4 linked regions of the Homo sapiens genome follow. The protein of the gene in region 3 interacts with the protein of the main gene of each other region in a pairwise test. Each region holds a gene or a part of one and is shown on either strand. Other genes may lie near its edges. The genes, in order: ASB6, SYPL1, TARS2 and PLIN3.

The links.
Region 1: the proteins of TARS2 (region 3) and ASB6 interact in binary tests that used the Homo sapiens proteins (3 or more experiments, as listed by UniProt).
Region 2: the proteins of TARS2 (region 3) and SYPL1 interact in binary tests that used the Homo sapiens proteins (3 or more experiments, as listed by UniProt).
Region 4: the proteins of TARS2 (region 3) and PLIN3 interact in binary tests that used the Homo sapiens proteins (3 or more experiments, as listed by UniProt).

Annotation. Positions count from the first base shown.
Region 1 is NC_000009.12:129,634,092-129,639,169, forward strand, and holds the end of ASB6 (ankyrin repeat and SOCS box protein 6), read right to left. Parts: intron 4,569-5,078; coding exon 4,482-4,568; intron 4,367-4,481; coding exon 3,699-4,366; 3' UTR 1,374-3,698; coding exon of another isoform or gene 1,117-1,373; 3' UTR 514-1,116; downstream 1-513. Other genes in the region: NTMT1 (N-terminal Xaa-Pro-Lys N-methyltransferase 1), read left to right, coding at 1-215, 1,117-1,373. UniProt on the Homo sapiens protein: Probable substrate-recognition component of a SCF-like ECS (Elongin-Cullin-SOCS-box protein) E3 ubiquitin-protein ligase complex which mediates the ubiquitination and subsequent proteasomal degradation of target proteins.
Region 2 is NC_000007.14:106,095,311-106,102,341, reverse strand, and holds part of SYPL1 (synaptophysin-like protein 1), read left to right. Parts: intron 1-3,059; coding exon 3,060-3,184; intron 3,185-4,444; coding exon 4,445-4,652; intron 4,653-7,031.
Region 3 is NC_000001.11:150,490,417-150,497,447, reverse strand, and holds part of TARS2 (threonine--tRNA ligase, mitochondrial), read right to left. Parts: intron 6,848-7,031; coding exon 6,723-6,847; intron 6,055-6,722; coding exon 5,937-6,054; intron 5,851-5,936; coding exon 5,786-5,850; intron 5,104-5,785; exon of another isoform or gene 5,038-5,103; coding exon 4,959-5,037; intron 967-4,958; coding exon 820-966; intron 639-819; coding exon 540-638; intron 1-539. UniProt on the Homo sapiens protein: Catalyzes the attachment of threonine to tRNA(Thr) in a two-step reaction: threonine is first activated by ATP to form Thr-AMP and then transferred to the acceptor end of tRNA(Thr). Also edits incorrectly charged tRNA(Thr) via its editing domain.
Region 4 is NC_000019.10:4,850,658-4,857,688, forward strand, and holds part of PLIN3 (perilipin-3), read right to left. Parts: intron 1,645-7,031; coding exon 1,359-1,644; intron 1-1,358. UniProt on the Homo sapiens protein: Structural component of lipid droplets, which is required for the formation and maintenance of lipid storage droplets. Required for the transport of mannose 6-phosphate receptors (MPR) from endosomes to the trans-Golgi network.

The sequences.
Region 1 (5,078 bases), on a different chromosome or scaffold from region 3:
CTGTGGAGCTGGCATTGGGAGGATCACCAAGCGGCTGCTCCTGCCGCTGTTCAGAGAGGTGGATATGGTCGACATAACGGAGGACTTCCTGGTTCAAGCCAAGACCTACCTGGGGGAGGAGGGCAAGAGGGTGAGGAACTACTTCTGTTGTGGGCTCCAGGACTTCACCCCGGAGCCGGACTCTTACGACGTGATCTGGATCCAGTGGGTGATAGGTGAGGGTTCCACCGCCCTTCCCTGCTCACCTGTATGTCTCCTGCCACTCGCGTTCCCCATAAGGTGTCAGGACCAGGGCTTTGCACTCCTGCAGCAAGTGGGCCAGTGAGGATTCCCCACCCCGCCCAGGCCCACCCCCACCCCGTACTTCCCAGGACTGAGGGACAGGCTCGGCCTAAAAGGTAGATTTCTTCCTTCTAGGTTTTGTTTCAGTTGAATACCTGCTACCATCCATTTGGGTGCAGTTTTTTGTTGAAAAAATTTTAATGGCCAATAACTTACTGCATTCAAAGTGAGGAGTTTTATAAGGGTTTTATTTTTAATAAGATGAATAGTTTAAGCTTCGTGTCTAGCCCTGCACCCTCTTAGCCTAACAGCACACCTCGAGCGCTGTGCCCTGGGCTGCTGACGTGGCGGCAGGCCGCTAGCAGCAGTCGGCCACCTCCTGAGGCGGGCAGCACAGGCCTGCTGTGGACACTCTAGGTCTGGCCTTGTATTTTGTGGTCTCAGAAGCCTTTGTGGGGACTTCTAGTGTAGGGAAGGCAGTCTCTCTGGGAGCTCCTGCAATGCCAAACTCTTAGCCCAGGTTCACTCCTCCGATCCAAGCCTGGCAGGGGTGGGGCATCATGGTGTGTAGGTATCAGGCAGGACTTGTAAGCCATCCCGTCAAGTCAAATTCTGGCTTAATGTGTCTTTAGGTAGATGACCTCTGAGCCACAGTTTCCTATTCTATGAATTGGGGTTTAGTAAATCTCTCGGGACTGAGAGCCAATGAGGCCATGTGTGCACACAAAATGCTGGGCACAAATGAGGGGCTCAGCGGGGCTGAGAAGTACATCCCATCCAGTGCCGACATCCGCTTGCATGGTGCCCTGGTAACCTTGCCTCTGCCCTCCCCAGGCCACCTCACCGATCAGCACCTGGCCGAGTTCCTGCGGCGCTGCAAGGGCAGCCTCCGCCCCAACGGCATCATCGTCATCAAAGACAACATGGCCCAGGAGGGCGTGATTCTGGACGACGTGGACAGCAGCGTGTGCCGGGACCTTGACGTGGTCCGCAGGATCATCTGCAGTGCAGGCCTCAGCCTCCTGGCCGAGGAGAGGCAGGAGAACCTCCCCGATGAGATCTACCATGTCTATAGCTTTGCCCTGAGATGAGCCGGGGCTGGCAGGAGAAACTGAGGAACCACAGTCCTGGTGGGGGGAGCTGGCAGCTGGGCAAGATCCAGGCGCCACGCTGGCGGTTCGTGAGTGTCGAGGCACCACTAAATATAGCTGTCTGCCGTCCACTCATTATGCGGGCTCTTCTTCAAAAGGCAAGGTGGGACCCGGCGGGGAGGGTGCTGCTGAACCAGCGGTGAGGCAGGAGCCCAGACCCTGCTCTCCTGCGAGATGGGATTGGGTGGAAGGGGCTCCAGGGCTCCTGGTGCTCCCCATGTGGGAATAGGGTGGCCACATCAGTAACCGATTCCCTGGGCCTCCAGCCCGGCCTTCCAGCCATGGGCCTGGCTGCCTGAAGAGGAAGGAAACCACCCCCAACTTGGTTGCTGGGGACTTGAAGACTTCAGTGTGATCTTTACCTAGGGGAGGGACAGAGCTGGGCTGGTGGAGCCCATGGGTGCTGCCTGATGGTGCTGTGGGGTGGGTGCTCATGTGCCAAGTCCTGCTTGGCAGTGGAGACCTGGGGCCCTTAAAGTGTTACAACAGCCTGCAGCAAGGGAAGTTCCCCGTAGCCTCAGTCTTCTCTGGGCTTGAGGCTGCTCCTTGGCAGGCATTTAAAGTAAAAAATAAAATGGGGCTGGGCGCGGTGGCTCACGCCTGTAATCCCAGCACTTTGGGAGGCCGAGGCGGGCAGATCACGAGGTCAGGAGATTGAGACCATCCTGGCTAACAGGTGAAACCCCGTCTCTACTTAAAATACAAAAAAAAAAAAAATTAGCCAGGCGTGATGGCGGGCGCCTGTAGTCCCAGCTACTCAGGAGGCTGAGGCAGGAGAATGGGGTGAGCCCGGGAGGCAGAGCTTGCAGTGAGGTGAGATTGCGCCACTGCACTCCAGCCTAGGTGACAGAGCGAGACTCTGTCTCAAAATAAAACTAAAATAAAATGGGGGCCGGGCACAGTGGCTCATGTCTGTAATCCCAGCACTTTGAAAGGCCGAGGCAGGCGAATCACCTGAGGTCAGGAGTTTGAGACCAGCCTGACCAACATGGCGAAACCCCGTCTCTACTAAAAATACAAAAATCAGCCAGGCATGGTGGTGGGCACCTATAATGCCAGCTACTCAGGAGGCTGAGGCAGGAGAACTGCTTGAACCTGGGAGGCAGAGGTCGCAGTGAGCCGAGATTGCACCATTGCACTCCAGCCTGGGTGACAGAGTGTCTCGAAAAAAAAAAATAATAAAATGGGACCTCCACACTGTGGAGGCCCTTGCCAGTCTAGAGTGGTGCTTCTTTGCAGGGACTTGGAAACAACCCCCCAAACACAGCATCCCCTCACACCTGCCACCCACTTCCTTACCGGCTGCTGTGGGAGCCTCTATCCTGAACTATGGAGGGGCGGGGTGGAAATTTTATATAAGGACCTTGTTAAGGCCAAGAAAGTCAGTTTAATCTTATAATATAAATATATCATTTAGTCACCTCAGCTTATCCCCAGAGGTGTTTACACAATTCCCAATGACCAGTGCAGCTTGGAAGGGACTGAGGCTCGCAAGTGGGTGGCACAGTCGGCTCTTCAGTGGCTCCAAAGTGAGCCCCTCACAACAGGAGACACTTCAGAGAGGTCTGTCCCCAGCCACGCACTCATGATTGCTTTTTAGCAGAAGTCATGGTCGCTGAGGCCCTGGGTTTGGCAAAAGCACAGCTGCCAGCAGAGCACAGTTCTGGTAGGTGGGGCCACGGCTGACCTGGCCCCAGAGCTACAGGAACAGGCAGGGGCCAGCTTGGCTTGCAACACCATGAAACAAGCCTGTGGGGCCCTTAGTGTCTTCTCCCGCAGAGCCCACCAGAAACACTTCTGTGAGTAACAGAACCTGGAAGGAAAAGGGGCAGGGGTGGGGCCTTGGTGGCACCGCACAGGACGTGCCCCAGGCTTCCTCTCCAGCTGCACTGCCACGTGCGGCCAACAAGAGCCCCGCAGCCCTGGGGTGCTGAGGCTTGGTCCTTCCCAGCTTCTGCAAATGCCCTGGCACTGCCCTCCAATTCAGAGGGTATAAACATCAATCCAAGCCCTGTTCCTCTTTCCAACATGGGGGGGACTTGGAGTGCCGCTGGAGGGAAGGGGGCAGTCTCTCTGGAAGAACCAGAGCTGCACCCTTCACCACTGGAGTGATCACAGCTTCAGGCTCTACCTGGCTGGCTTTTCTCATGAAGGATCCCGTCTCATCTCCCAGATCAAAAAGACCCTCTTCTAATGCTGTCCCAGCATCTACCAACAGGCTGACCTGAGCTGCCCGTGTCCCCCGTTCCTGTAGCCTGAGACCTATCAGATGTCATCTTCCACGGAGCCACTGTGCTCGCTAAGGAGGTACCACTTCAGCCTGTCGGGCAGAGGCAGGGCTTTGACCTTCACATCCACAGGCCACGGCTGAAGGTAGAGCCGGATGGCCACACGGCACAGGTGCTTGAGGGGCGGGGGATAGCTCTCCAGCTGCCTCAAGGAGAAGTGGAGGGCCTGGATCTTTTCCGCCAGGCTGCCCACAGGGTGGATATCGAAGTTTTCGGGCAGCTGGAGTTTCTGAGAGTTGGTCACCATGAGATCCAGGACAGTCTCAGCTTTGCGCAGGAGGTCCGCATGGCTCTCGTCTTCCGTGCAGCCTGGGTGGGAACAGAGCCTCTCAAAGATGATGTGAAAGCCAGACCAGCAGGACGCACCGTGCAGGGAGCAGTTGTAGGCGGCTCCGGACTCCAGGAGGAAGCGCAGGAGAGGGAAGTGCAGTTTAAAGCTCTTCAGGCAGATGTGGGTGAGGGACTCGTGGGCTGGGCACTCGCTGGGGTCGGCCCCGTGTGCCAGCAGCAGCCGTGTGACTTGGAAGCAGAAGCGGTTGATCATCTGGGCCTCCTCTTTGTCCCCTCCCACGGTCTCACCAAGCAGGAAGATGATGCAGGTGAACACTGTGTCCCCATCTTTGGTGGTGGCCTTGACGTCTGCCCCTAGAAGAGCCATAGAACAAGAGATGCTGGGAGAAGGCCTTCAACCCTGGCAAAGCAACAGCACACATCGAAGGGGCGGGTGAGAGGACGAGGCCTAGGAGCGCGCCAGCCTCACCTCCTTCCAGTAAGAGACGAATGTTCTCAGTATTGTGGATCTGCACCCCGTCGCTGCTGGCCAGAGCATGGAGCAGAGCAGTTTTTCCTAGGGAGGGAGGGAGAGCAAGGAGGAGCAGGAGGCCAGGAAGCCCAGGTCAGGGCAACCCAGAGGAGGTGGCAGAAATCCAGACACTCAGAGGATCAGAAGATGAACTTTCAGAGACAACTCTCAGCTCAGGTGAGGGCTGAGGGTGACAGGCTTCTGGCCATTCCCTTTCCACCCAGAGAAGTGGGAGCGGAAAGGCCAGGAAAGGTAGGATTTTTCTGGACCCCAAGATGCTACCTGAGATGTTGGCTGGGCCTCTCCCAATGGGAAGCCATTGTTTCTTGGAAACTAAGTGCACACATGCCCTATTTCTTCCTATAGAAGGCCCTTGAGGGCCAGCACAGGGACAATGACTGCACTGCCTCTCTGAAGCCTCTGAGCTCAGCAAGTCAGCAGAATCCCTGTGTGCCCAGCCATGCTGTGCCACCAGCCAGGGCCAGCATCCAGTCTGCCCACCTAGCTGTTGTCCTGGGGCACCCTGGGTGTCCCCCACAAGGTGCCTGGGGGCCC
Region 2 (7,031 bases), on a different chromosome or scaffold from region 3:
GGTGGATCACCGGAGGTCAGGAGCTCGAGACTGGCCTTACCAACATGGTGAAACCCCGTCTCTACCGAAAATACAAAAATTAGCCGGGCATGGTGGCAGGCACCTGTAATTACCCCTGCTACTCAGGAGGCTGAGGAAGGAGAATTCCTTGAATCTGGGAGGTGGAGGTTGCAGTGAGCCAAGATTGCACCATTGCACTCCAGCCTGGGTGACAGAGCGAGACTGTGTCTCAAAAAAAAAAAAAAGTTGTAATCTTTTTATAACTGAGTCTCAGAAAAGACATCCCATTTCTTCTACAGTACCATATTCTATTCTGTAGAAGCAAGTCACTACATTTAGTTGACACTCAAGGGAAGGGAAATCAGGCTCCATCTCTTGATGGGAGTTGTATCAAAGAGTTTGTGGGCATATCTTTAAAACCACCACATTCCTTTCCTCCGTGATCTACAAATCAACTCTGTTAGATACAATTTGTCTTATACACACTAGTCTATTCCTGGCCTTTTTATTCTGCTCCATTGGTTCAATTTGTGTATCTCATTTCTTTTCTTTTTTTTTTTTTTTAATTTAAACGTGGGTATATGCTCAGGACTCATTTTCTGGCCTTTTCACTCTGTGTATTCATGCATATTTATTCTGAGAGAGTATTGATTCTTCCATCTTTACCTTCTTTTTTAACATAAAACATTATTTAGTACAAATAATGAAAAATGATTTCATGACACATTTTCCAAGGAAAGTTACTTTTACATATTTTGAAATCCTGTAAAAACTGGGGATCACCTCTTAACAGTTAAGACCCCAAACTATGTGCTGGACATTACCTCAGACTCTTCCTATCTGTAACCAGATTCTTTTCATGTATCTTTTTTGTGGGGGGGGGGGGGGGGGGGGGGGGGGGGGCGGATGGGAAAAAACAAACCCTTGACAATTACTATAATGTGGATTATGGCCTACAAGATTCAAGGCCCTGGAATAATCCATGGGAAGCATTATGTCAAGTGTTCCACAGTGAATATTTGATATCAAATCTGCATTGAATATTATCTACTACCAGTTGCTGAGTGTGTGTGACCTTGAACAAAACGAAGCCCCTGACCTCTTCAAGTTTCTATTCTAGGGAAAGACAGACAAATTAAGTACTGTGTCAAGCAGTGGTAATTAGAACAGAGCAGAAATAGAGTAGAGGGAATAGGTAGTGCGGGGTAGGAGTGCTGTTATTTGATATAGTGTGGTGAGGGGAAGGTCTCTCTGAGAAGGTCATACTGGAACAGGAAGCTATGGAAGTGAGGGAGTGAAGCATGTATTCCAGGCAGAGGAAATAGCCAGTGCAAAGGTCCTGAAGGAAGAGTTTATCCCGTGTCATTAAAGGTATCGCATGGAAAGCAGTTTGTGTATACAGATTAGGTAAAGGAAAAAGTAGCAACATGAGGTCAGAAATATAAGGGAAGAAAGGATCTTGCAGGCCTTTATATGAACTTTGGTTTTTATTCATAGAGAGCTCAAAAGCCATTGGAGGGTTTTGAGCAAAGGATAACATTTTCTGCCTTACATTTTTAAAAGATTGTCTTGGCTGTTGTGTTGATAACAGACTGAAGCTGGGGCAAGGGCAGAAGCAGAGAGATCATTTAGAAGGCTGTTAGTGCAAAATTCAGGCAAAAGGTGATGGTAGTTCAGATCAGGAGGCAGTACAAGTGGTCAGATTGCAAATGTATTTTGAAAATAGAGCCATCACCACTTGCTGAAAGATTGAGCTCCTGGACTTTAACAGCGCATCTGGAATTTTTTGCTTACTTGTGTTGTTTTGTAGAAAATTCACAAGTACAAAAATAAAAAGGAATTATTTATCTTCCTTTGAGAGGTGACCAGTGTTAAAATTTTGATGCATAACCTTTCTAGTTTTTGTTGTTTAAATCTACTTTGTATGTAATGAACACTTTCTATGTTGTTAATCTCCAACATTCTATGTTGTTAATTTCCAACAGCTATATAATGTTTCATTGCATGAATGAATGAATGGATGAATTATAGTTTGATTCCCTGTCAACATTTAGGTTGCTTCTAGGTTTTTTGTGTTTTAGATGGTATTTGAGAGAACACCATTCATTTTTTTAAGCATATACATGATTAGGAAAATAAGTTTCCAACAACTTTTTGAGACCTGGAAATACCCACAAGGGAGGTTTAACAGGCTCATGAAATAGTGTCTCTTCTCTGCTGACAACCTCTTGGCTTTACAAATTACTGGTAACTTGTGTTCCAAATAAAAATACCTCCAATTCACCCCTTTTGATTTTATACTAATAAATGAGTCTCCCTCTATATTTCATACTAATACTTAGTGGATACACTAAAGTATGAGCAAATGAATTGTCATATGGGCTGGTACATTTATTTCTATATTATACTCCGGGGAAAATAAAATCACATTTGTCGAGGTTTGCAAATGAATGTTTTAATGTCTTTCACCATCTTAGTTTGTGTTTAAGAATTTCTAGAATGTAGCCAGGCATGGTGGCACACTCCTTAGTCCCAGCTACTTGGGAGGATCACTTGAGAGTTCAGGGCTGCAGTAAGCTATGATTGTGCCACTACACTTGAGTCTATACAACAGAGTGAGACTCATCTCTTTAAAAAAGGGTAGTGGGGGCTGGGCACAGTGACTCACACCTGTAATCCCAGCATTTTGGGAGGCCAAGATGGGAGGATTGCTTGAGTTCAGGAGTTCAAGCCCAATCTGAGCAACATAGCGAGGCCTCATCTCTACTAAAATTCAAAGAAAAATTAGCCAGGTGTGGTGATGCACACCTGTGATCCAGCTGCTTGGGGGACTGAGGTGGGAGGATCACTTGAGCCTGGGAGGCCAAGGCTGCAGTGAGCCCTGATCGTGCCAGTGTACTCCAGTCTGGGCGACAGAAACCCTGTCTCAAAAAAAGAATTTCTAGAATGTTAGCCAATTTTTAATAATCAGTGTGCTTACAGTTTTAGTGACCCTTGTTTTGGTTGTAGTATTGCTTATCTTTTTTTTCTTTTGTCTTTTTTCATCTTACTTTGTGTAGATTGCTTCTATCTTTGCTTTTGCCACCTGTGGAGGTTTTAAGGGCCAAACAGAAATTCAAGTGAATTGTCCTCCTGCAGTTACTGAGAATAAAACTGTTACAGCTACTTTTGGTTATCCATTCAGGTGAGTTATATTTATTTTAATGGTTTCACAACTCTTTTTACTTTCACAGTGAGTCATTAAGATTTCCAGCAATTTATTGATTGTGGGGGGTAGAAAATTTTAGACTGTATGCTCATTTGTAAGTGATCATTACCTCCCAAACTGTGGTACACAGACCCATGCCTGTCTAAAAACATCTCCTGATCTGTGACAAAATAGTACAGAAAGTGAGAGTAAGCATTTAGAAACTTTTATAACAATGTGATGTTGCCTTGATAATTTTATTCTAACAGAGGATTGGAAATGTAAAAATAAAGCAAACTAGAGATTGTTCTATCACCTTAGTATAAGAAGCCCTAATGTAGAAGGAAACATAACTTAGAAAAATCCAGATTCTCAGTGTTTTTTGTAATTGCTGAATATTAATGTCTTTATATAGTTTTAAGACATATGTATATAAAGAGATTCCATATTTCATTCATTAGCATAAAGCCACACTTTCTTAAAGTAAAATGAGTATTTCATCTGTGAAGTCTTGTTTGACATCAGTATCCATTGAAAAGTTTATTGAATATGTCCTGTGTTTAAGCCAGGGTGGGAATCTTCTTTCACTTACTAATTTTACTTACTTCACCCAAGACTCAATTTTTTGGTCCAGTAATTGGAAGTATTATCTTGTAAGGCTGTTTTGATGATTAAATAAAATCCCCATATTAAAGATAAGTCAGATAATAAGTGGTTAATCATCAAAGCCTCTCTATCTTGTATCCTTTCTCCTAGACACTTCTCACATAAGGGACTGTTACAGCATCTTTAGTGACAAGTTTTTTACAATTTATGGTTGGGAAAAATGAAAGGCAATATTTATTGTTAGCAACTATTGATCCAGGGTTAAAAATGTGAATCATTGTTGTGATTGGCTCTCTTGGGGCTAGTCACACATACTCTGCCACACAGAATGAAATATGATGTCTCAAAGTATAAACCATTTGGTATAATCTCTCCTACCTAATTGTTTACTGCAGGAAGATAGTATCTGGGTATGAAAGTATTTAATTCAGTCTATATTCAATGTATCATAAACTAATACCAGGTATAACATATACATTTATTATGAAAATTTCAGTTTACTTAAATATAATATTTGAATTTTACTTTTTTCCCCAAAGGAATGTTTTTAATATATTTGGGGAGTATTTTTTGAAGTGTCACTCATTGTTTTGCTTAAATGTTTCTGTCTCTGTTGGGAAAGTCCAATAATTCATACATTTATTTTAATAGGTTGAATGAGGCATCATTTCAGCCACCTCCAGGTGTAAACATATGTGATGTAAATTGGAAAGATTACGTCCTCATAGGCGATTACTCTTCTTCTGCACAATTCTATGTTACCTTTGCAGTCTTTGTGTTCCTGTACTGCATTGCTGCCCTTCTGCTTTATGTTGGCTACACGAGTCTGTATCTGGATAGTCGTAAACTTCCTATGATAGTAAGTAATCACTTTATTTTTTAAATACAAAAATAATTTGTATAAGCTAAATATAGATTTTCTTATACTGGAAATAAAAATTCTTGGTGTAAGCCAGTTCAGCATATTTTAGCCTGTGTTTGCCACGAGGTTGAGCTTTCTCCCATTAAGTTTAACTCAATTTTTTTTAGCCTATTTGCACTATAAGGAAAGTTTATTTCTTTTTTAAATCTATTTTAACTTGGAAAAAACTCAGATATGTAATAAAGCACATCAGGTTACAAATAGCAAAAAAATTAAGTCGAAATTCTTTTAATTTGAAGAATTACTTATCACAACATAGTCTCATAACTCTTTCTGCTTCTTACTTTTTTTCTTTCTCTAAAGGCCCACTTTATACTTCTACAAAACTTATTGAGTTTAATTATATCATGGGTTCACAAACTATGTCCCAGAGGTCACTGTCTTATTTTTTATTTTTACTTCTTTATTTATATATTTACTTTTTGAGACAAGGTCTCGCTTTGTCGCCCAGGCAGGAGGGCAGTAGCACCATCTTGGCTTGCTGCAGCCTCAACCTCCTGGGCTCAAATGATCCTCCTGAGTAGCTGGGACTACAGTCACAAGCCACCATACTCAGTTACTTTTTGTGTATTTTTGTAAAGACGAAGTTTTACCATGTTGCCCAGGCTGGTCTCAAACTCCTGGGCTCAAGTGATCTGCCTGCCTTGGCCTCCCAAAGTGCTGGGGGTTATAGGTGTGGCCAGGAGCCTGGCCTTGTTTTTTTAAATAAAGGTTTTTTTTGGAACTCAGCCATACACAATCATTTACACATTGCCTATGGCTGCTTTCACACTGCAATGGTAAAGTTGAGTAGTTGTAACAGAGATAAAAAATAGTTGCTATTTGGCCCTTTTCAAAAGAAGTTTGTTGATTCCTGGTCTATGTCCCTAAACTCCTTAATTTAAAATCAGACCCAGGTAATTCTTATACTCAGCATTAGTGGCAACCATGAACTAATTTTGAATCTTTGAGGTATCAACAAAGGACTTAGATTTGAAGTCCTATACTTTTGGCTTCAGAGCCTACTGAGCTAGAAATATTCTCTGAGATTTAGTTAGTAGAATCTGCCCTGGATTATTGGTGGCAAATCCAGAGAGAAATCATGGTTTTAAGCTACACCTCCACTATAAAAGAGTAACTACAAAGTCAGTTATTAGTGACTTAAAGGGAAAACAGAGGTGTTTTTTATGTGTGATACTGGTCATTCATATGTATGAGAAAACACATCTGCTAATTATTTGTGAAGTTACTTTAAAGGGAAGGCTATTTAAATATGAAGGATTATTAAATAACATTACAAGTTTTATTTACATATTTATTTTTAATTTTGCTGCTGGATCATAAGAATGGAAATGGTAAGTAATACAACAGTCTTTTATCATTCATATTTAATTCTGTTTCTTATGTCATAGGAGACACAAGAAAACTAGAGGTTTTCATAAAATACTTCTCGGTTGTTAAAAAGATAAGACGTCAACTGTTTTAATTTGCAGTGCTTATCCAACATACTTGTTAGGAATCTGTGTCTTCTGCAGACTTTTCAAATCTTATTTAAAAGGGAACTGGAATAATCTTATAGATAATTATATTTTGTTAAAATTCTTTATAACTAGAAGCTATTTCTTGCCATTTTGTCATCCCAACAAATTTTTTTACTAAATCTATCAGTGTGCCCTTTATTTCTCATATTTTGTCTAGTAAACTTTTAAAAATACTACCCTTCTTAAAGCAGCATTCCAATCTATTTTTGTAGGTGGTTTTTGTCTGATAAAACTATAAAACTGACCTAGTTGCATCATTCAGAAACGTAAAAAGTAATTTTCCACCTCAGAATGACCAATTAGTGGTCATATAAAGAGATAATCCAAAATTCCTTAAGTAGGTTTTTATTGTTACATAATGGGTGCTTCTTGTCTATAAAAGTCTAGCTTCTAAATTTAATTTTCAGTTCTATTTTTAATGTAACCATAAAAATATTAAAAGATTTTCTTTGAGAGACTGGGTGCAGTGGGTCATGCCTGTAATCCCAGCACTTTGGGAGGCCGAGGTGGGTGGATCACTCCAGGAGGTCAGGAGTTCGAGACCAGCCTGGCCAACATGGTGAAACCCCATCTCTGCTAAAAATACAAAAATTAGCTGGACATGGTGGTGGGCACCTGTAATCCCAGCTACTGGGAGGCTGAGGCAGGAGAATCGCTTGAACCCAGGAGGTGGAGGTTACAGTGAGCCAAGATCACACCACTGTATTCCAGCCTAGGTGACAGAGCAAGACTCCATCTCAGGGGAAAAAAAAAAAAAGGTTTTTTTTGAGATACCCAAAATTTAAGATATAGCCAA
Region 3 (7,031 bases):
CCCTCAGGCCATGCTGATTGCAACCACAACCTATTAAATACCAGGTCCCATCTCTATGCTCCCCGACTGCAGACCACACAATTGTAGTATTAAAGGTCACCAGCACTTTCAATATTTATGTTTATGATTCCAAACCAGCCCCCCCACCTTTTTTTTTCTCTTCAAGACGGAGTCTCACTGTATCACACAGGCTGGAGTGCAGTGGCTCAATCTCAGTTCACTGCAACCTCCCCTTCCTGGGTTCAAGGGATTCTCCTGCCTCAGCCTCCCCAGTAGCTGGGACTACAGGCGCTGCCACCACACTGGCTAATTTTTTGTATTTATTTTAGTAGAGACAGGGTTTTGCCATGTTGGCCAGGCTGGTCTCGAACTCCTGACCTCAGGTGATCTGCACGGCTCAGCCTCCGAAAGTGCTAGGATTATAGATGTGAGCCACTGTGCCCGGCCCCAACCCCCATCTTTTAACACAAACACCTTAGCTTCTTCTAGTCCCTCAGCCCCTCCCTGGTCTTCTTTCCTCTAGACCTGGGTCCCCTTACCCTGATAAACGCCACTAGTGCATTATACACCCTTGTCCCTCGTGGCAGGAAGAAGCAGCTCCCAGGGCTCAGTTCATGGAAGAAGAAGAGCTCCTGTTCCTGGGGTCAGGAATAGCAATATTGGGTCACCTCAAGGGCAAGGAGGTGGCTTTGGAACTCAGAACAACTGACGGAGCTGCTCAGTCTGTGTGACTGAATCTGCTCCCAATTTCATAATCAGGTTCTGTCATCTCTCTCCAACCCTTATCACCATCCCTCCCTATCTTCCCAATTCCTGTACCTTCCCAATGCGCCGGTGGTCCCGCAATTCTGCTTCCTCCCTCCATGCTTCCCAGACCCTCAGCAATTCTGTTGTGGGGAAGGAAATCCCTGACACTCTCTGCAGTGTCTCTGGGGCCCCTGAAGACCTCCATAAGGATGATGAGTTCTGTGTGAGGACATAGGGGATCAAAGGAAAGATGAGGACTGAAGGCCCCCACCTTTTTCAAGACTCAAATGATACTCTCAGTGTTAAGTGTCACAGGTATGCCTCTTGACAACAATCCCACCAGTAGGATGAACACCTCCATCCTCTAGACACCATTCTTCTAGATTAAAGTGTTGAAATTGCCTGACTCTTAATTCCTACATACAACCTGGTCAGGCCTAACCTTACCTTGCCATCTCTTTTTCTCCCCATTCTCATTACCCCTTTACTTAGTTCCTTCCCATTCTAATCAATGACTGCTTAGAGGAATAACCATAAGCTCTGGTCAAATGTCAGTCTATTCCTCCATTTATCAATATCCTATACAGCTGCTAGAAAAGTCAGTCTTCTATACCATATCCCATTCCTGGCCACATGAAATCCAAAAGCCTCTGCCTGCTCTCTCCTTTAACAGTACTAATGAGCCGGGCGCGGTGGCTCACGCCTGTAATCCCAGCACTTTGGGAGGCCGAGGCGGGCGGATCACGAGGTCAGGAGATCGAGACCATCCTGGCTAACATGGTGAAACCCCGTCTCTACTAAAAATACAAAAAAATTAACTGGGTGTGGTGGTGGGTGCCTGTAGTCGCAGCTACTCGGGAGGCTGAGGCAGGACAATGGCATGAACCCGGAAGGTGGAGCTAGCAGTGAGTCGCGATCGCACCACTGCACTCCAGCCTGGGCGACAGAGCAAGACTCCATCTCAAAAAATAACAAACAAACAAACAAACAAAAAAGTACTAATGAGAGGCCGGGCGCAGTGGCTCACACCTGTAATCCCAGCACTTTGGGGGGCTGAGGTGGGTGGATCACAAGGTCAAGAGTTCAAGACCAGCCTGACCAACATGGTGAAACCTTGTCTGTACTAAAAATACAAAAATTAGCCAGGTGTGGTGGCACGTGCCTGTAACCCAGCTACTCAGGAGGCTGAGGCAGGAGAATTGCTTGAACCTGGCAGGCAGAGGTTGCAGTGAGCCGAGATCAGGCCACTGCACTCCAGCCTGGGCAACAGAGCAAGACTCTGTCTCAAAAAAATAAAAATGAAATAAAATAAAACTGTTAAACAGTACTAATGAGAAACAGTCTATACGTGTGTGTGTGTGTGTATATACATCTGTCACCCAGGCTGGAGTGCAGTGGCGCGATCTCGGCTCACTGCAAGCTCCGCCTCCCAGGTTCACGCCATTCTCCTGCCTCAGCCTCCCAAGTAGCTGGGACTACAGGCCACCACCACCACACTCGACTAATTTTTTTTTTCTTTTTTTGAGACGGAGTCTCGCTGTCGCCCAGGCTGGAGTGCAGTGGCGTGATCTTGGCTCACTGCAGGCTCCACCCCCCAGGGTTCACGCCATTCTCCTGCCTCAGCCTCCCAAGTAGCTGGGACTACAGGCGCCCGCCACCTCGCCCAGCTAATTTTTTGTATTTTTAGTAGACAGGGTTTCACCGTGTTAGCCAGGATGGTCTCGATCTCCTGACCTCATGATCCGCCTGCCTCAGCCTCCCAAAGTGATGGGATTACAGGCGTGAGCCACTGCGCCCGGCCACACCTGGCTAATTTTTTGTATTTTTAGTAGAGACGGGGTTTCACGGTGTTAGCCAGGATGGTCTCGATCTCTGGACCTCGTGATTCACTCGCCTCAGCCTCCCAAAGTGTTAGGATTACAGGCGTGAGCCACCACGCCCAGCCCCTATATGTATATTTTTTGAAACAGAGTCTCACTCTGTTGCCCAGGCTGGAGTGCAGTGGTGCAATCTTGGCTCACTGCAACCTCTGCCTCCCAGTTCAAGCAATTCTCCTGCCTCAGCCTCCCGAGTAGCTGGGACTACAGGTGCATGCCACCACGCCCAGCTAATTTTTTATTTTTAGTAGTGACGAGGTTTCACCATGTTGGCCAGGCTGGTCTTGAACTCCTGAGCTCAAGTGATCCGCCCAACTTGGCCTCCCAAAGTGTTGGGATTACACGTGTGAACCACCGCACCTGGCCGACAGTCTGTATTTTACAGCACTTTTTAACTTTTCCTTTTTCCTGAATTAGTTGGTTTTCATTATCTTTTTTTTTTTTTTTTTTTTTGAGATGTTGTCTCGCTCCGTGGCCCAGGCTGGAATGCAGTGGCACAATCTCAGCTCACTGCAACCTCTGCCTCCTGGCAGAGTTCAAGTGACTCTCCTGCCTCAGCCTTTTTTGTAGCTGGGATTACAGGCGTAGGCCAGCACACCCAGCTAATTTGTGTATTTTTAGTAGAGACAGGGTTTCACCATGTTGGCCAGGCTGGTCTCGAACTCCTGACCTCAAGTGATCCGCCTGCCTCACCCTCCCCAAAGTGCTGGGATTACAGGTGTGAGCCACCATGCCTGGCCTGGTTTTCATTATCTTTATGAGGTGAATTTACTGGTAGGACAAAAAGGAATTAATAGCCTCATTTTATAGATGGGGAAAATAAGTAAGATTTACCCAAGGCCACCGCGCCATGGGGTTTTGCCATGTTGGCCAGGCTGATCTCAAGTGATCCACCCACCTTGGCCTCCCAAAGTGCTGGGATTATAGGCATGAGCCACCATGCCCAGTCTAAGTTCAGAGCTTTTTGCTCTACACATCTGCATTTCCCCTTGCTCCCTTGTAACTCATCCCATTCCATCTAGTAACTCTTCTTGTCCAGAACAGTATTTTCTTTTCTTTTTTTTTTTTTTGAGACGGAGTTTTGCTCTTGTTGCCCAGGCTAGAGTGCAATGGCACGATCTTGGATCGCCACAACCTCCACCTCCCAGGTTCAAGTGATTCTCCTGCCTCAGCCTCACAAGTAGCTGGGATTACAGGCATGTGCCACCACGCCCAGTTAATTTTGTATTTTTAGTAGAGACGGGGTTTCTCCATGTTGGTCAGGCCGGTCTTGAACTCCCGACCTCAGGTGGTCCACCCACCTCGGCTTCCCAAAGTGCTGGGATTATAGGCGTGAGCCACCATGCAGAACGGTATTTTCATAAAAAGCATGCCCTTTACTAAAGGTATTTTCCCTGTGCCTGTCAAATGGTGTTCATCTTCCTCCTGGACCACGCCCCCTCTCTCTACAACCCTTCCCTGTATGACCCATCCAGCTTGCTCACACCCTCCTGCTCCACCCCTCCACCCCCCTTAATACTGACATCATATTAGGGCATCTGAATTGGCTTCTGGGCCCTAGCAGGCTGTCCAGTGTGTGCCATCAAACGGGTTTTTAGAATGTGGGGACAAAGTTTCTTTCTCCTGTATTCCCCGCTCAGCTTATGAGAGTACAGGGCCAGGCTCAGTGGCTCATGCCTGTAATCCCAGCACTTTGGGAGGCTGAGAAGGGAAGATCACTTGAGATCACCCTGGCCAACATGGTGAAACCCTGTCTCTACTAAAAATACAAAAAGTAGCTGGGCATGGTGGTGCACACCTATTATCCCAGCTACTCGGGAGGCTGAAGCAGGAGAATTGCTTGAATCCAGGAGGCGAAGCTTGCAGTGAGCCAAGATCGCGCCACTGCACTCCAGCCTGGGCGACCGAGAGACTTGGTCTCAAAAAAAAAAAAGGGGGGTGCCGACAGAAAGTATCACCTTCCGATTCTCCTGCTCATCCCAGTGAAACCAGGAATTTTTTTTTTTTTTTTTTTGAGATGGACTCTCGCTCTGTTGCCCAGGCTGGAGTGCAGTAGTGCAGTCTCGGCTCACTACAACCTCCGCCTCCCAGGTTCAGGCAACTCTCCTGTCTCAGCCTCCCGAGCAGCTAGGACTACAGGTGTGTGCCACCACACCCAGCTAATTTTTGTATTTTTAGTAGAGACGGGGTTTCACCATATTGGCCAGGCTGGTCTCAAACTCCTGACTTTATGATCCATCTGCCTCAGCCTCCCAAAGTGCTGGGATTACAAGCGTGAGCCACCATGCCCGGCTCAAAATAGGAATCTTAACCTAACTCTGTCCCACAACTGACCGATAGCAGCTTCAGTCCTCCAATCTGTCCAGTATGCCGAAGGTGGGGGCCCTGGCAAAGGTCAACCAATGTGCCACACCTAGGAGAAAGAAGAGGCCAGTTAGTGATTTTCAGAATCTTCAGCTTCTAGCTTTCTCCCTCTCATGGTCTTTAGCTGACAGAAGAGGTGAAGAGAAAGGAACTGTCCTACTGAGAGAGGGCAATGGCAGATAAAAATCAATTCCCTGGCAGGGCGCGGTGGCTCATGTCTATAATCCCAGAACTTTGGGAGGCCAAGGTGGGTGGATCACGTGGTCAGGAGTTCGAGACCAGCCTGGACAATATGGTGAAACCCCGTCTCTACTAAAAATATAAAAATTAGCTAGGCATGGTGGTGCATGCCTGTAGTTCCAGCTACTCGGGAGGCTGAGGCAGAAGAATTGTTTGAACCCGGGAGGCAGAGATGCAGTGAGCCGAGATCGCGCCACTGCATTCCAGCCTGGGTGACAGAACAAGACTTCATCTCAAAAAAAAAAAAAAAAAAAAAAACTAGCCAGGCATGGTGGCACATGCCTGTAATCCCAGCCACTCTGGAGGCTAAGGCAGGAGAATCACTTGAACCCAGGAGGCGGAGGTTGCAGTGAGCCGAGATCGTGCTACCGCACTCCAGCCTGGGAGACAGACCAAGACTCCGTCTCAAAAAAAGAAAAAAAAAAAATCAATTCCCATTCCCATTTCTTTTTCTGGAGCAACACAAATTACCTTCTATCTTTCTTCCCTTATCGCATTTCTGGCCTTCTTCAATGCTTCCCCACCTCTCTGTTTGCCTTAATCTTGACAACTCTTACCCATATACTGTTGCTGTTGGACCTGTCACTTTCTCCTCAATCAAGTGAAGCTTAAAGGGGTTATCCTGGAAAAAGGTAGAAGGGAGATTGAAGAAAAGTGTTTATTCCCACAAAGATGTCCTGGAAGAGCCACCTCTTCCCTCCACCCCACCTTGAACAACTGGCGAAGCTGATCCCGTGAAGCCTCTAGCCTCCGGAAGGGTCGAGCAGCAGCTGTAAGTTCCTGGCAAATCCGCTCCAAAACAGGCAGCTCTGAGCCCCGGATTGTCCTGGAAAGAGGAGAATTGGTTGGGTTGCATCCTATGAGGTGCATCAATCACCTGGGTGACACACCTGTTGGCTAGCGGGTAAGGTCCTGTCCTTCAAGAGAAATCTAGAGTTATAGGCAAAGACAGACAAACTCAGAGAAAATATAAATAGGATATCAGGTAACAGATATTACAGCTGGAGAAAAAGCTCTATGCATGAAGTTAAAAGTTGAATGCAGGAAATCTGGATAGACAAAGTTAGAACAATAGTAATGAGGGCGATTAAGTAAAACTTGAATTTATGAAAGCTAACAAGTAACAAAGTAAGTTGTTTCTTCTTTTTCTTTTTGTTTTTTTTTTGAGAAAGTGTCTTGCTGTGTCACACAAGTTGGGTGCAGTGGTTAAGATCATGGCTCACCACAGCCTCAACCTCCCAGGCTCAAGTGATCCTTCCACCTCAGCCTCCCAAGTAGCTGGGACTACATGTGCACCAGCCAAGAAGGTAAATTTCAAGCAAAGTTAGAAGAGGGACATGGACTAGCACAGAAGGAGATACTAATGTCATAGTTGAGACCTAGAGAAACCCTTCTCCTCCAGCTTCCTCATCCAAATGGAGCATGCCCAAGGCCCCTGAAAAGAGCCTCAGAAACCATCCCAGAATCATTCTCCTCCTTCCTTTCATTACTCACCTCTCCTTTCCCAGGAAGAAATCATGGTAAAAGCCATATTCTGTACTTGGACCTCTGCAGAGAACAGCACCTAGGAATTGTTCAGCTGCTGCCCCCAGGACATGGGTGCTGGAGTGCCAGAACACCTGGGTTCACAAAAAAGGGGTTCACAAGTTCATAAACTTCTCCCTTAACCCCTAGATCTCTGAGCTCTTCCTCACAAAAGCTGGTAGGAAAGCCGGTATGGTTCTTCTAGGAATAACTACCACAAAATGGGGATCCTAGATTTTGGGGGTGACCACTAAAAAGTAACAAGCTTAAAAAAAAAGG
Region 4 (7,031 bases), on a different chromosome or scaffold from region 3:
TCTCCTGAACCTGTGATCCGCCCGGCCTTGGCCTCCCAAAGTGCTGGGATTACAGGCGTGACCCACCGTGCCCGGCCTAATTTTTGTATTTTTAGTAGAGACCGGGTTTCACCATGTTGGCCAGGCTTGTCTCAAACTCTTGACTTCAGGTGATCTGCCCACCTCGGCCCACCAAAGTGCTGGGATTACAGGCTGAGCCACCGCGCCCTGCCTATATCCTAAGCTACTTATTTGCAAAAATCCCAATCCCCGCACTTTGGGGGGCTAAAGCAGTAGGATCACTCCAGCCAAGGAGTTCTGGATCAGCTGGGATGACAGAGGGAGACCCCGTCTTTACCAAAAATTAAATAAAGAAAAATTAGTTGGGCGTGATGGTGTGTGCTTGTAGTCCCAGCTACTCGGAGGCTGAGATGGGAGGCTCGCCTCAACCCAGGAGTTGGAGGCTGCATTGAGCTATGATCGCACCACTGCACTTCAGCCTGGGCAAGAGAGTGAGACTCTATCTCTAAAACAAATAAATAAAAAAGGGCCGGGCATGGTGGCTCACACCTGTAATCCCAGTACTTGGGGAGGCCGAGGTGGGCAGATCACAAGGTCAGGAGTTCGAGACCAGCCTGGCCAACATAGTGAAACCCCGTTTCTACTAAAAATACAAAAAATTAGCTGTGTGGTGGCAGGTGCCTGTAATCCCAGCTACTCAGGAGGATGAGGCAGGAGACTCGCTTGAACCCAGGAGGCAGAGGTTGCAGTGAGCTGAGATCACGCCATTGCACTCCAGCCTAGGTGACAGGGCGAGACTCTGTCTCTAAATAAATAAATAAATTAATTAAAGAAGAATATCAAATAAACAGTGCAGGGAGTGCGAATATGTGACCGAGATGACTGGAGTGGGATGTCTGGCCTGGCGGGAACACCAGCATTGTTGTCACAGTTCAGTGAGATCTCAAGTTTAGTCACGTATTTATGCAGGAGCGGAGTGGCGAAGGGGGAAGAGGAGGAGGGCGGGGAGAGGACAGGGGAGGTTGTGCAGGACCTTGTGGGCTGTGACGAGGACTTGGGCTTTGACCCCAGGGGAGGTGGGGTCCATGGAGGGCTGTGGGCAGAGGGACGGGTTCTGACTCAGGTGGTCACAGGCGCCCTCTGGTGGCTGCTGTGGGGAGGAGACTGTGGTGGATGAGGGCGGGAGCTGGTGAGCAGGACAGAGGGGACTGCGTTAGTGATGAGATTCCAAGATGCCCGGGAGAAGTGGCAGGGACGAGGCGGCAGTGAGTGTCGGCACAGACCCCAGGAGGCCGACAGCGGCTTCCGGTCAGGGGGCCTGGGGAGGGGTCCCAGAGCAGCCCGCTGGCCACACTTACCCAGTTCGGCATCCGTAAGGGGCAGGTGGTTGTCCGCCCACTCCTCCGACTTCCCCAGCACCGTGTCGACCCCACTCAACACCATCTGGCCCAAGCGGGAGCCCATGACCGATTGGACGCCGCCGGTCACTACGGACTTTGTCTTGTCCACGCCGCTCTGCACAGCACCGCGGGTCGCGTCCACCGCCTCCGACAATTGGGTGGCCACCGTGTCCTTGGCGCTAGACACCATCTCTTGGGCCCCCGACACCTTAGACGACACAAGCTCCTTGGTGTCCGCCAGGACCTAGGAGATGCAACAGCATCAGCATCTCTGCCTTCCCTCCATATCTGGGCACCCCTCCCCTGCACCCCAACTTCCAGGGAGACCGAGGCGGGGAGCGCCATCCCCCGGGTGACCCCAGCATCTCCGTCTTCCCTCTGTATGTGGGCACCCCTCCCCTGCACCCCAACTTCCAGGGAGACTGAGGCAGGGAGCGCCATCCCCCAGGTGACCCTGAGTCTGGAGTTGTGGGCATGACCTCATACTCTGCAGCCAGACTACCTAGGCTCCGTTCCTAGCTAGCTACTTCTCAGCTGTGTGGCTTCAGGAAAGTCACTCTACCTCCCTGTACCTCATTTCTTTCTTTCTTTTTTTTTTTTGGAGACAGGGTCTTGCTCTCTTGCCCAGGCTGGAGTGCAGTGACACCATCTCAGATCACTGCAACCTCTGTCTCCCGGGTTCAAGCAGTTCTCCTGCCTCAGCCTCCGAAGCAGCTGGGATTACAGGTGCCCGCCACCATGCCTGGCTAATTGTTTTTTGTTGTTGCTGTTGTTGAGATGGAGTTTCACTCTCGTTGCCCAGGCTGGAGTGCAATTGTGTGATCTCGGCTCACTGTAACCTCCGCCTCCTGGGTTCAAGCGATTCTCCTGCCTCAGCCTCCCGAGTAGCTGGGATTACAGGCATGCGCCACCACGCCAGGCTAATTTTGTATTTTTAGTAGAGATGGGGTTTCACCATGTTGGTCAGGCTGGTCTCAAACTCCTGACCTAGTGATCCGCCCACCTCAGCCTCCCAAAGTGCTAGGATTACAGGCATGAGCCACTGCACTCTGCCTGTTTTTTGTTTTTTTTTTTCAATTTAATTTTTTTTCTTTTGAGATGGAGTCTCCCTCTGTCACCCAGGTGGAGTGCGGTGGCACAATCTCGGCTCACTACAAACTCCACCTCCTGGGCTCAAGTGAGCCTCCCACCTCAGCTTCCCCAGCGAGTAGCTGTGACCACAGGCACGTACCACCACTCGTGGCTATTTTTTATCTTTTATTTTTATTTATTTATTAATTTTTTTGAGGCGGAGTTTCACTCTTGTTGCCCAGGCTAGAGTGCAATGGTGCAATCTCGATTCACTGCAACCTCTGCCACGTGGGTTCAGGTGATTCTCCTGCCTCAGCCTCCCAAGTAGCTGGGATTACAAGCACATGCCACCATGCCGAGCCGATTTTTGTATTTTTAGTAGAGACGGGTTTCACCATGTTGGCCAGGCTGGTCTTGAACTCCTGACATCAGGGGATCCACTTGCCTGGGCCTCCCAAAGTGCTGGGATTACAAGCATGAGCCACTGCGCCCAGCCTTATTTTTTATTTTTTGTAGAGACAAAAAATACAAAAAATTAGCCGGGTGCAGTGGTGCATGTCTGTAATCCTTACTACTCAAGAGGCTGAGGCGGGAGAATCCCTTGAACCCGGGAGGTGGAGTTTGCAGTGAGCCGAGACTGCACCACTGCACTCCACCCTGGGTGACAGAGAGAGACTCTGTCTCCAAAAAAAAACAAAAACAAACAAACAAAAAAAAGCTTTGCATGGAATCCTTTGACTACGCCCCACCCAGCACATGGTGAGCGCTCATCTGTCAATACCTGCTGTTCTCGAATCTAAGTCTTTTTTTTTTTTTTCTTTTGAGACAGGGTCTCACTGTGTCACTCAGGCTGGAGTGCAGTGGTGCAATCATAGCTTACTCAAGCCTTGACCTCTTCGGCTCCAGCGATCCTCCCACCTCAGCCTCCCAAGTAGCTGAGACTACAGGTACGCACCACCACACCCGGCTTATTTTTTTATTTTTTGTAGAGACAAGGACTCTCCATGTTGCCCAGGCTGGTTTCGAACTCCTGGCCTCAAGCAGTCCTCCTGCTTTGGCCTCCCAAAGTGCTGGGATGACCGACATGAGCCACTGTGTCCAGCTGAAGCTAAGTCTTTAGACAGATCTCTATGCAGAGGGCTCTCCGCAAAGTTGAAAACCACACCTGCCCCATTCCTACCCAAGTTGGTGCTTCCCTGAAGACTCAGTCCTCTTGTACTCATGAGAGTTCATCTTTTTGTGGGGGAAGAGGGTGTGAGAGTCAAGTTTTTTGTTTTTGTTTTTGTTTTTTTTTACAGAGTTTTTGCTCTTGTCACCCAGGCTGGAGTGCAGTGGCACTATCTCGGCTCACCGCAACCTCCACCTCCCAGGTTCAAGCGGTTCTCCTGCCTCAGCCTCCCCAGCAGCTGGGACTACAGGCGTGCACTGCCACGGCCGGCTAATTTTTTGTATTTTTAGTAGAGACGGGGTTTCACTGTGTGAGCCAGCATGAGCCAACGCCCCCGATGAGAGTCAGGTTCTAACAGCCCCACTACTCAGTGAACACGCACGTTCTCACACTGGCCCGGATTAAAATCTAGCTCTGACAACACCACCGTCCCCCAGAACCTGGGGAAAGTTACCTCTTCACAAAGGGGGAAAAAACTCATAGGGCCCAGAATTGAGAGAGCATTGCACCTCTCAAAAAGTCAAGAGCTCACAGCAGGCCAGGCACGGTGGCTCACACCTGTCATCCCGGCACTTTGGGAGGCTGAGGTGGGAGGATCGCTTGGGCCCAGAAGTGTGAGAACAGCCTGGGCAACATAGTAAGACCTCACCTCTACAAAAAATACAAAAATTGGCCGGGCACGGTGACTCACGCCTATAATCCCAGCACTTTGGGAGGCCAAGGCAGCTGGATCACCTGAGGTCAGGAGTTCGAGACCAGCCTGGCCAACATGGTGAAACCCCATCTCTACTAAAAATACAAAAATTTGCTGGGCGTAGTGATGGGCGCCTATAATCCCAGCTACTTGGGAGGCTGAGGCAGGAGGATCACTTGAACCCAGGAGGCAGAGGTTGCAGTGGGCTGAGATCACGCCACTGCATTCCAGCCTGGGCAACAGAACGAGACTCCATCTGAAAAAAAAAAAAAAAAAAAAAAAAAGCTCCCAGCTGCTGCTCTGTTCAGTGACCTTGAAGAATTCACCCTGAGCTTATCCCTTCTATAAACAGAAAGACTGTTGGCCTCCTACGCTATCAGTGGGAGAGAAAGGGAAGCAAGGGCTTGGCCCTGAGACGGGGGCTCCTGGTTGACGTTTCCCATCTTCCTGTAAGCTCAGCAGTTTCCATCCCCCCTCAGCCAAGCCCACTATTGGCCTTTGCTGATAAGGTGTAGGCATGGCTGGGCATAGTGGCTCACAACTATAATCCCAGCACTTTGGGAAGCCAAGGCAGGCAGGAGGATTGCTTGAGCCCAGGAGTTTGTTTTTTGTTTTGTTTCTGAGATGGAGTCTCGCTCTGTTGTTCTGATCTCGTGATCCGCCCGCCTCGGCCTCCCAAAGTGCTGGGATTACAGGCGTGAGCCACCGTGCCTGGCTAGCCTGGGAGTTTGAGACCAGCCTGGGCAATATAGCAAGACCCCATTCCTACAAAAAATTAAAAAATTAGTCAGGTGTGGTGGTGCACACCTGTAGTCCCAGCTTCTCAGGAGGCTGAGAGCTGGGAGGATTGCCTAAGTCTAGGAGGTCAAGGCTGTAGTGAGCCAAGATCACGCCACTGCACTCTAGCTTGGGCTACAGAGCAAGACCTTGTCTCAAAAAAAAAAAAAAAATGCAAGTTGACAACCGCTCTGCTGTTTCCCAGCTAAGGCCATTTCTGCATAAATGGGAGGTGAGGAAGTCTAACCATGATGGGACAGCACAGCTCCCCGGCATACAGTAGGCACTCAATAGCAAGTGGATGAATAAGCTGCCTGTCCCTGCAGGTGGTCTCAGGGAAAGTCCAAGGATGCTGGGATGCGGCTGGCTTGTCCTGCCTCCAACCCAGGGATCACCTATTTCTGATGCTACAGACCCAGACACAAGCAGGTGGTACCCGAGGGTGGCCCTTCTGTAACCACTGGGCTGAAGCGGACATGGAGCACCTGAATACTTAATAAGCATCTATCTGCAGGGCGCGGTGGCTCACACCTGTAATCCCAGCACTTTGGGAGGCCGAGGCAGGCAGATCACCTGAGGTTGGGAGTTCGAGACCAGCCTGACCAACATGGAGAAACCCCATCTCTACTAAAAAGATAAAATTACCCAGGCATGGTGGTGCATGCCTGTAATCCCAGCTACTCGGGAGGCTGAGGCAGGAGAATCGCTTGAGCCCGAGAGGCGGAGGTTGCAGTGAGCCGAGATCGCACCATTGCACTCCAGCCTGGGCAACAAGAGCAACACTCTGTCTCAAAAAACTAAAAAAATAAGCATCTACCCTGTGCCAGGCTGCCTGCTGGGCACTGGACACAGCCACAAAGCAGGCAGCCTGTGCCCTGGTCCCAGCTGGGGAGACAAACAATAACCGATTAAGCCTCACACTTATCTGAAGGAGGGTGTTTTTTTTTTTTTTTTTGAGACAGAGCCTTGCTCTGTTGCCCAGGCTGGAGCGTGGTGGCACGATCTCGGCTCACTGCAACCTCTTGCCTCCCAGGTTCAAGTGATACTCGTGCCTCAGCCTCCCGAGTAGCTGAGATTATAGGAACTCACCATCACGCCTGGCTGATTTTTGAATTTTTAGTAGACACAGGGTTTCACCATGTTGGCCAGGCTGGTCTCGTACTCCTGATCTCAAGTGATCTGCACGCTTCGGCCTCCCAAAGTGCTGGGAGTAAGGCGTGAGCCACCACGCCTGGTCTGTGCCTCATTTTTTCATCCCAGGCTGTTATAGGTTGAATTATGGCCCCCTCAACCCCAAATTCTTATGTTGAAGTCCTGATCCCCAGGGGTAAGAATGTGGCTGTATTTAGAGACAGGGTCTTTAAAAAGCGGTGATTAAGGGAAACTGAGGTAGGGCACAGTGGCACACTCCTATAATTCTAGCACTTTGTGGGGCTGAGGCAGGAGGATTGCTTGAGCCCAAGAGTTGGAGACCGGCCTGGGCAATATGGCGAGACTCCGTCTTGACAAAAAGTACAAAAATTAGCCAGGCGTGGTGGATGCACCTAGTCCCAGCTACTCAGGAGGCTGAGGCAGGAGGATCTGTTGAGCCCAGGAGTCTGAGAACAGCCTGGGCAACATGGTGAAAACTCGTCTCTACAAAAAATTAAAAATAGCCAGGCATGGTGGTGCATGCCTGTGGTCCCAGCTACTTGGGAAGCTGAGATGGGAGGATCACTTGAGCCCAGGAGTTCAAGGCTGCAGTTGAGCCATGATCACACTACTGCACCCCACCCTGGGTGACAGAGTGAGAACCTGTCTCAAAAAAAAAATTTTTTTTTTTAATGTTAAGAGCCAACATTTGCTACAAGCCATGTGCTGTTCTGGGCCTTCAGGTGTTAACCCCAGGTCAGCATTGCCATTCTGTAGAAAAGAAAGTGGG